Regions from separate parts of the Homo sapiens genome. Here region 2 is linked to region 1. Evidence: fine-mapped expression QTL. A gene starts in region 1. The other region holds a variant in brackets. All regions are shown on one strand. Distances are from middle to middle.

Evidence for each region. PIP is the estimated chance that this variant, and not a neighbour inherited with it, causes the effect.
Region 2: its variant is the best candidate, but not a certain one, in a credible set for the expression of LINC02761 in breast (GTEx, PIP 0.65).

The regions. Positions count from the first base shown.
Region 1 is chr11:76,214,088-76,218,601 of GRCh38, reverse strand. It overlaps LINC02761 (long intergenic non-protein coding RNA 2761), which reads left to right and starts at 2,512. Exons shown (of 3, transcript XR_007062785.1): 1 at 2,512-2,615; 2 at 3,310-3,377.
Region 2 is chr11:76,197,666-76,201,665 of GRCh38, reverse strand. All of the region lies in intron 1 of WNT11 (Wnt family member 11), which reads left to right. Among named protein-coding and RNA genes, the nearest start is that of WNT11, 6.8 kb to the left of the region's middle. The variant C/T (reference allele first, on the strand shown) is at 1,538.

The sequences.
Region 1 (4,514 bases):
CATCTTAACAACAGAGCTAATCACCTCTGCCCAGCCTCCCTCTCAAGCCAGTGGCAAGTCTCAAAGGAGCCTGCCCATAACTGTGGCAGGGCTTAGAAAACTGGAAAGCTCAACTTGAGGTCTGGGATGGTTAATAAAATGAGCAAACGGACCTTGAGAGGGACTTCTCTGAATCCCCACCAAACAGACAGGTAAGTCAGTTCCCCTCTGGTCTACCCCGCATCCTTCTGGCTACAGATCTAGCCCAGGTCTTCTCCCTCTCACAGTCTGTTCCTGGATTGAAAAGGACAGAAAAAGTGCTCTTCCCAACAGGGCTTGGCACTGAAGATGCAGAGCAGAGGTGCTAGACCAGAGGACTAAGGGCCCTGCTTCCCACAACAGATGTGTCCATGCAGGTGGCTCAGCTGCTGCATTAGTGGCCAGGCTGTCCCTCCCCTCCACTAGCCCAAGTCATTCCTGCTGCTACCCCACTTTCCCCTCATAGGCTTCCAGGAGCTCCATCTCCCCTCACCTCCCCATCCAACCCCAGACCTGCCCCAGACTTGAATCCCAAACCTGACCTTACCCCTTCCCTCTTCAGACCTCCTCCATGTCTCTCTTGGCAAAGCCCAAGCTCCCTAGCCCAGCACTGAAGGCCCTCCGTGGCATGGGCCTGGCTTCCTCTCCCGTTATTCTCCCTCCTGTTGCTCTTCATGCCAGCAGCACCGAACCACCCACTTACCCTTCTCTGAAAGCAAACTTCTTCTTGTCTTTGCTTACACTGTTCCCCTGCTGGGAACGCCCTCCCCCTTCCCCGGCCACCTGACAATTCCTCTCCCACCTGCACATTATTTATATAGACATGAATGCTAAGTACAGATGAGCTCTCCATCTGGAACTGTTTACGTACCTGGCAGAAAAGGAACTAACCTTTATCAAGGACCGATTACGTGCTGAGCATTTTACATACATCATCTCTCCTTTAAGCCCCACAGCAACCCAGGCAATAAATTTCACTCCTCCTATTTTTCAGGTGAGAAAACTGAGGCTCAGAGACATGAAGTGTCTCTTCCAAGGCCAAACAGAAGTTGCTTTCGAGTTGCAACCCCAAACTGTGTGATCCAGAGCCCATGCTTGTTTTAGGGCCAGGTGGAAGCACTTCCCTTAGGGTTATATCTGTGTCCGGGGACACCATGTACATAAAAATACTTGTTATTAAGTGAGGTTGTGCTGCTTTGTAATGCTAGGGACCATCGTGATGTGCCTAAGGCTATCCTATATAAGAGGGGACCCCAGGAAGACAGCCAGGACCCCTGGGGGAATCAGAGGTCTCTGCTCTAGACGGAGGAGGATCTTCTCCAAGACAGAGCCATTCATAATGGAAGACACCATCCTGGAGGGAGTGAGCTCCAATCCCTGGCAACTTTGGAGCAATTACTGTTTGTCCAGCCCTGGTGCAGTACTGGGGACATAGCAGCACATGACAGAGCTATCACTGGCCACATGCTGCCCCAGATCAGTGGAGACATTACAGGGCCTCTGGTGGCCAGCACCTTGGGGTTATGAGAGGGGGTGGCCCAACGGTAAGATTCTAAGATTCTGAAATGACATTAGACAAATAATTGTGTATATATTTAGCTTTTTCACTCTTTAAGCCTGGCTGCTTCTTGTCTCTATTGCTACATAACAAACCATGTCAAGATTTAGTAGTTTAAAGCCATAATTGACTCTCGTGCTTCTGTGGGCTGACCCAGCAGCTCTGCTGACCTTGTTGGGCTCGCTCGCGTGGCTGCATTTGACTGATGGGCCAGCCGATACAGCAAGGCCTCTCTCTGCCCCAGCCTGGGCTTCTGACCTTGCAGCTGGGCTGGGCCCCAACAGGGTGAAGGCAGAAGCTGCAAGGCCCCGAGTCCTGGGCAGCAGAACACAGGCTACATCTACTAGTCAAGCAAGCCATGAGGTCAGCCCAGATGGAGGGGTGGGGACAGAGCCTTCGCTTTTGCATGGAGTCACATTCCAAAGAGTCTTTATGTTCTGGGATGGGAGGAATTGGTGCTACTAAAAAGCTGCCTCACTGGCCTGCTCAGAAAGGCTTCAGAACCAGTGACAAATAACTGCATGGCTTATGCCTGGATGTCAGGAGACCTGATATCTGTCTCCTGCACCACTAACCGAGTGATGTGCGACCCCTCTCTCGGCGTCAGTTTCTCTATGTGTACAGTCGGGGCACTGAGCATGGTAGGTCTCTGGCCCTGTGTGTGCGTGTGATGGGGTGAAACTCAGACAATGCCGCCTCTCTTCTCCCAGGTGCAGAGACGCTGATTTGTACACATATCAGAGAAGCAGAGGCCCAACCATAAAAGAAACTGCCATCCTGACACAAATGCCCCTGTGGCCCACTGCTTCCTATGCCTCCTCTTCTGGTGACAGGCACTGCACCCAGCCATGCCCAGAGCCAGTTTCCCGTGGCAATAACAGATGTCCATCAGAGGGAGAGTGCGTGACTCAAACAAGGCCAATCAGCCGCCTTCCCTGGGACTGATTCAGAGGCCCAAGGAGACAGAGGTCTCATTTGACTGGAATTTCTAACTGGGGCTGTTGGTGGCTGCATCCCAATGGGGAGAAATGAGGCCCGGGTGAGTTCAAAGAGAGGAGGAAGAAGGAGAAGTGAGTTTGAGACAGCACAGCATCTCCAGGGGACCAGCACCAGCCCTGAGCCCTCCTGAGTGCAGTAGGGCCACCAGCCACCCCAGTTTCTCCTGCAGGAACCAGTTTCTCTGGTGTTGAAGCTGGTTGGGGTTGGGTTTCTTCTCTCCTGGAGCTGAAAGAGGCCTGAGAAACACACACATTGTCTCCTGAGCAGCCACCACCATGATTAAACAACTGAGAGTTGAAAGCAGGCTTTCAGATGTGACGCCCTCAGTAGACATGACGGGTGGCATTTTGTTATGTGCACCCAGGAAAGACACCTCCCATCTCTCCGTGGTGCCCCCAGGCCTGCTCCCTGAGCCCTGTAAAATAACAATACCTCCCCTGAGGTAACTGAAGGGGAGGAGGAAGACATACCCTACCCTGGGCAGTGGGCAGAGGTTCCAGAAACCCACAGACCCGGGGTTTGCAGCCAGGCCCACTCACTGACAGAGAGATCTTGTATGAATTACCTGACAGACCTGGCCCAGTGTGCTTATCTGCAGAGCAATGCCTGTCTCAGGCATAGGCACAGAAACTGCCTAGCACACAGTAGGTGCTTGTTCAACCAATATGACTTCTTACAACATTATTTCTCAATAACATCGAGAAGGAGTGGTTTCGTGGCTTTCTGTTTTGCAGATGATGAAACTAAGGATCCCAGAGGCTGAGTGACTTCCCCGGAGTCCCTCGGTGGGTAAGTGGAGGAGGTGAGTCTGACAGCCAGGCCCAGGTGCTCTGATGACAGGCCTGCTGCTATTTTGTCCCCTTACCCCACCCTTGCCTGGAAGATCTGGCCTCACAGGGCATGCCAGAAACAGCTGGGCTGGGTTCCTCTGCTCAGACCCCCTGTTCATGTGTCTTCTCAGAAAGGCCTTTCTAAAAGCACCCTGGTGGTGGAAGCAGTACGCTTTAGTCTCATTGTAACCAATGAGAAATGGGAAATGGTGATGACGGCCTCTGCCCTGCCCTGCCCTCCCTCGAGATGTGTCCAGGACCAGGATGAGGGATCTCAAAAAATGGTTCTGGCCGGTGCAGTGCCTCATGCCTGTAATCCCAGCACTTTGAGAGGTCAAGGTGGGTGGATCACCTGAGGTCAGGAGTTTGAGACCAGCCTGGCCAACATGGTGAAACCCCTGTCTCTACTAAAAATACAAAAATTAGCCGGGTGTGGTGGTGGGCACCTGTAGTCCCAGCTACTTGGAAGGCTGAAGCATGAGAATCGCTTGAACCCAAAAGGTGGAGGTTGCAGTGAGCTGAGACTGCACCATTGCACTCCAGCCTGGGCAACAAGAGCGAAACTCTGTCTCAAAACAAAACAAAACAAAACAAAAATGGTTCTGGGAAGCCAGCATCTGCCAGGTGGCCTGGGGTCGGGAGAGGGAGAGTACCTGTGGTCTTCCTTCATTCACATTCATGGCTCGTCCTATGGCACAGGCTGGTTTGGTGGTGAGAAGAGCATGGCCCAGGGAGTGCTGGTTCCAGGCTAGAAAGAGTCATCTATGGAGCAGGTCCAAACCCAACCAGGAGCCTGGGACCCATGAGTCCAGCCCATGCCAGCTGCCCCCAGCCAACCCGCAGACATGGGAGGGAGAGGCGTGTGCTTGTGGATGATGCCACAGAGACTGTACACAGCAAAAGTGGAGCAAAACACTGTCGCTTTTTTTTTTTTTTTTTTTTTGAGATGAGTCTTGCTCTGTCACCCAGACTAGAGTGCAGTGGTACCATCTTGGCTCACTGCAACCTCTGCTACCCAGGTTCAAGCGATTCTCCTGCTTCAGCCTCCCAAGCAGCTGGGATTACAGGTGCCTGCCACCACACCTGGCTAATTTTTGTATTTTTAGTAG
Region 2 (4,000 bases), 17 kb after region 1:
TCCCAGCAAGGCCCCCAACTCCTGAATGAGAGGAGGCCTTGCCACCCCGGTAGGGCCCTGAGCTCGGGCCTCGCCTGTGAACTCTGCATTCCCTCCTGTCCTTTCTTCCACCCTCTCCCCCAGGCCCCCACCCCCAGATAAACCGAAATGTTTCCAATTAGGGGTCTGTTGGAGTGAAGCGAGCAAGATGTCCACAAGGAGAACTCCCCCACCTCCCATCCTAATCCTTGATTACCTCCCCAAGGGGGATTTATTTGGAAACGGTCATTACCACTAATTACCAGATGACCGCATGGCCCTCCTCGGGAGTGGAATCTGCTGCCTCCCGCCTGTGATCTCTGCCTGCAGCCCCTGTGGGCGGGTGGCCTCCCTAGTACGCATGGCAGCCTGCTCCTGTCCCAGCGTCAGCCTCCAAGGCGGGCCCCTGGGCCTTCACACTGCTCTGGGCCCACCAGGGCCTCTGGATCTGTTTCTCATTTACCCTTGGGCCGCCTGGGGAGTCTGAGCCTCGTCTGGAAGGTGCTCTGACAGCACCTTCTCCCTGAGCCTTCTGGGGAGGATGGAAAGACTGAGACCCAGGGTAGCTCCAGGGCTCACCCCAGGGTCCCAGCCTAGGAGACCCAGGCACCAGGAGCACCAGGCTCCCTTCCTTTAGAGCTGCAGCACCCAGCACTCACAAGCTGTCTGCACTGAGCTCCCCAGGAAGAGGCTCAGCCCCCATCGTCCCACCCCGTGGCTTGAGCCGGAGCCCAGGGAAAGACACAGGAGGCTGCCTTCACTGCCTGAACGCCCACCATGTGCCATGAGCCTGCTGCTAGGCCATGCGCTGATGTGCTGTCGCCCACGTTGTCCTTCTCATTTGAAAATGGAGGAAGCTGGCTCAGAAGGAGCGGGAAGAAAGTTGGGCGAGGGCAAGCGGCAGAGCAGGCTCAGGACGGGCTGGGTGGGGACCGCTCAGAGCAAAGCAGAGTGGGGACCCAGAGAGAAGTGACCCCAGTGCCTGCAGGGACTGACAGCCTCACCAAGAAGGATGACGGGGCCTGCTGGCGGGTGCTGGACAAGCACAGCCCCTAAAGCAGGGCTGATCATCCCCTCCGGGCTGCCCTCTGAGGTGTGAAGTGGGAGGCTCTGTCAACCGGGAAGGGCCATGCCCATATGGAGCTGTTTACCCCATGACGGCACTGCACGCAGGGACAGGGTTTGCTGGGTGGAGGTGGAAGAGCTGTTGACAACCGGGAAACACACTGAGGTGATGACGTTTGCCTCTGTGTGGTCAGAGCCCACCCAGGAAGTAAGGCAGGGTTCAGCAACAGGTTCCCCAAGAAGGTGAGGCCAGGGCAGGCCAGAACAGTTCCATTTAGGTCAAGAAACCGCGTCTGAGGGATGCTGTGTGGCCCACCCTGTGCCGGATGCTGGCATCTAGACACACCAGACATTTCCCGACTCATAGTTTAGGGGGTGGCAGTGAGGGGAGACTGCCCTGGACACCACAGTTGATCTTACACAGGGCGAGTCACGCCGCCCTAACCACAGACAC[C/T]AGGCCCTGCTTTCTGGGTCTCTGGGAAGGTTTCTATCTTTGGGGGTTATAGGGTGGGTGGGACATGGCAGAGCGTGAGAGGCAGGAGGAAATGAAAGAACCTATTGAGTACTTACCGTAGCACATATCATTCAGCCTTGGCAGGACCCTGAGAGGTCCTCACGTTGTAGTTGATGCCCAGAGAGGGGCAATAGTTTGCCCAAGTTTGCACAGCACATAGAGGACAGAGCTTGAGTGAGAACCCAGGCCTTCTCACTCCGTCTGGTCCAATACTTGCTGGGCAACAAGCGGGGGACTTAGCTTCATCTATGAATTTTTTGTTTGTTTGTTTTGTTTTTTGAGATGGAGCCTCACTCTATCGCCAGGCTGGAGTGCAGTGTCACAATCTTGGCTCACTGCAATCTCTGCCTCCCAGGTCCTGCCTCAGCCTCTCAAGTAACTGGGACTACAGGCGCGCACCACCACGCCCAGCTAATTTTTTGTATTTTAGTAGAGACGGGGTTTCACCATATTGGCCAGAATGGTCTTGATCTTCTGACCTCATGATTTGCCCGCCTCAGCCTCCCAAATTGCTGGGATTACACATCTATGAATGTTTTAAACACTTTGCCTACGTTCTGTTATTTAAGTCTCACCATAGCCTTTTTTTTTTTTAAGTAGACAAGGTTTCACTGTGTCACCCAGACTGGAGTGCAGCAGTGTAATCATAGTTCACTGTAACCTCAAACCCCCGGGCTCAAGTGATCCTCTCAAGTAGTTCAGACTATAGGCATGCACCACAACACCCGGCTAATTTTTTTACTTTTTGGTAGAGACGGCTCTCACTATGTTGCCCAGGGTGGTCTTAAACTCCTGGCCTCAAAGGATCCTCCTACTTTGGCCTCAGAGTAGCTGAGATCATAGACATGAGCAACAACCCCCAGCCTCATCATAGCCTTTTGAAGTAGTAATTATTTCTATTTTATTTTATTTTAATTTATTTTATTTTATTTTTTTGAGACAGAGTCTCGTTCTATCGCCCAGGCTGGAGTGCAGTGGTGCAATCTCGGCTCACTGAAACCTCTGCCTCCTGGGTTCAAGCAATTCTGCCTCAGCCTCCTGAGCAGCTGGGATTACAGGCATGCGCCACCATGCCTGGCTAATTTTTGTATTTTTTGAGTAGATACAGGGTTTCACCACGTTAACCAGGCTGGTGTCAAACTCCTGACCTCAGATGATCTGCCCGCCTTGGCCTCCCAAAGTGCTGGGATATTACAGGTGTAAGCCACCGCGCCTGGCCTTATCATTTCTTTGTAACAGATGAGGAACATGAAGCCCAGAGAGGTTGGATAACTTACCTAGGTCACACAGCTGGTGTCCAAGGCTTGTGCTCTTCCTGGGGCTAGGCCAGGAGTGAGAACAGCTGGGTCATTGATTTATAATGATTGGTAGCTTTATCCAGCCATTAGACTAGGGCATCCTTGAGGAAAGGATCTATGTCATATTCATTACCAAATGAGTCTGGGAAGAGTTGGTGCTTAGTAAATACTTCTTCCACAAGCAGATCAAGTTCATTCATGTCCAGAAGCAGGGGGAAAGGCATTCCTGGCATCAGGAAAAGCTTGGGCAAAGGCATGGTGGCAAGACAGTTCCTTTCAGAGAAGTCAAGAACCTGGTGTAGCTGGATGTCAGGATGAGGATGGGAGGCTGGCGAGAGCTGGGAGGCCAGGCTTTGAGGGGCCCTGAATGTCAAGCAGCAGCCCTTGGCCTTGACTAGGCAGGTCCAGGGAGGCTGCCCACAGGTAGGAAAAGACCACCAAGGTGGTAACTGTAGTAGCTTCCATCACTGACCACTGACCACAGAGTGTCAGCCCTGGGCAGAACGTGTGACACACATTGTCTGATTTAAGCCCTCAGTTAATACTGGGAGGTTGATGGGAGAGGAGAGGTTAAGTGACTTGCTCAAGGTCGCAAGGGGAGTGATATAGCCTGGAGTCTACCCAAGCCTGTGCAGTGCCCTTGGCAATGGGCTGCCTCCCTCAGAACTCAGCCCAGGGGTTCTGGGATCTCTACCTTGCCAGGTCTCAGCCCTGACCCTGGGTGAGGACCGCTGGGTCCACAGCAGGCGGGGCACTCAGCACTTCTGGCTGCAGAATGGCCCCCTCTTGGTTCCCTGTCGCTCCTGGGTCTCTGCTGGGTTGCTGAAGGCCAGCTGACTCTGGGTTCCAGACGGCCTCTGCTGTGGGTGGGGGCACTGAGAGTGAGTCCATGTGGAGTCCTTTAAGGTTGTGGGGTCCTTAAGTGCTGCCGATGCAGGCTGCCCTCAGAGAAGGCCTAGGAGAACGGCAGATCGAGGAGGGGCCTGGTCCTAGAGTCTTGGAACCCAGGTGCCCAGAGCTGGGATCTGGGAGGCTCTTGGGTCCTCTAACATCACCAGGGTTCATAGGGACCCACCAGGCTAACGTTTCCCAAAGCACGGACGAG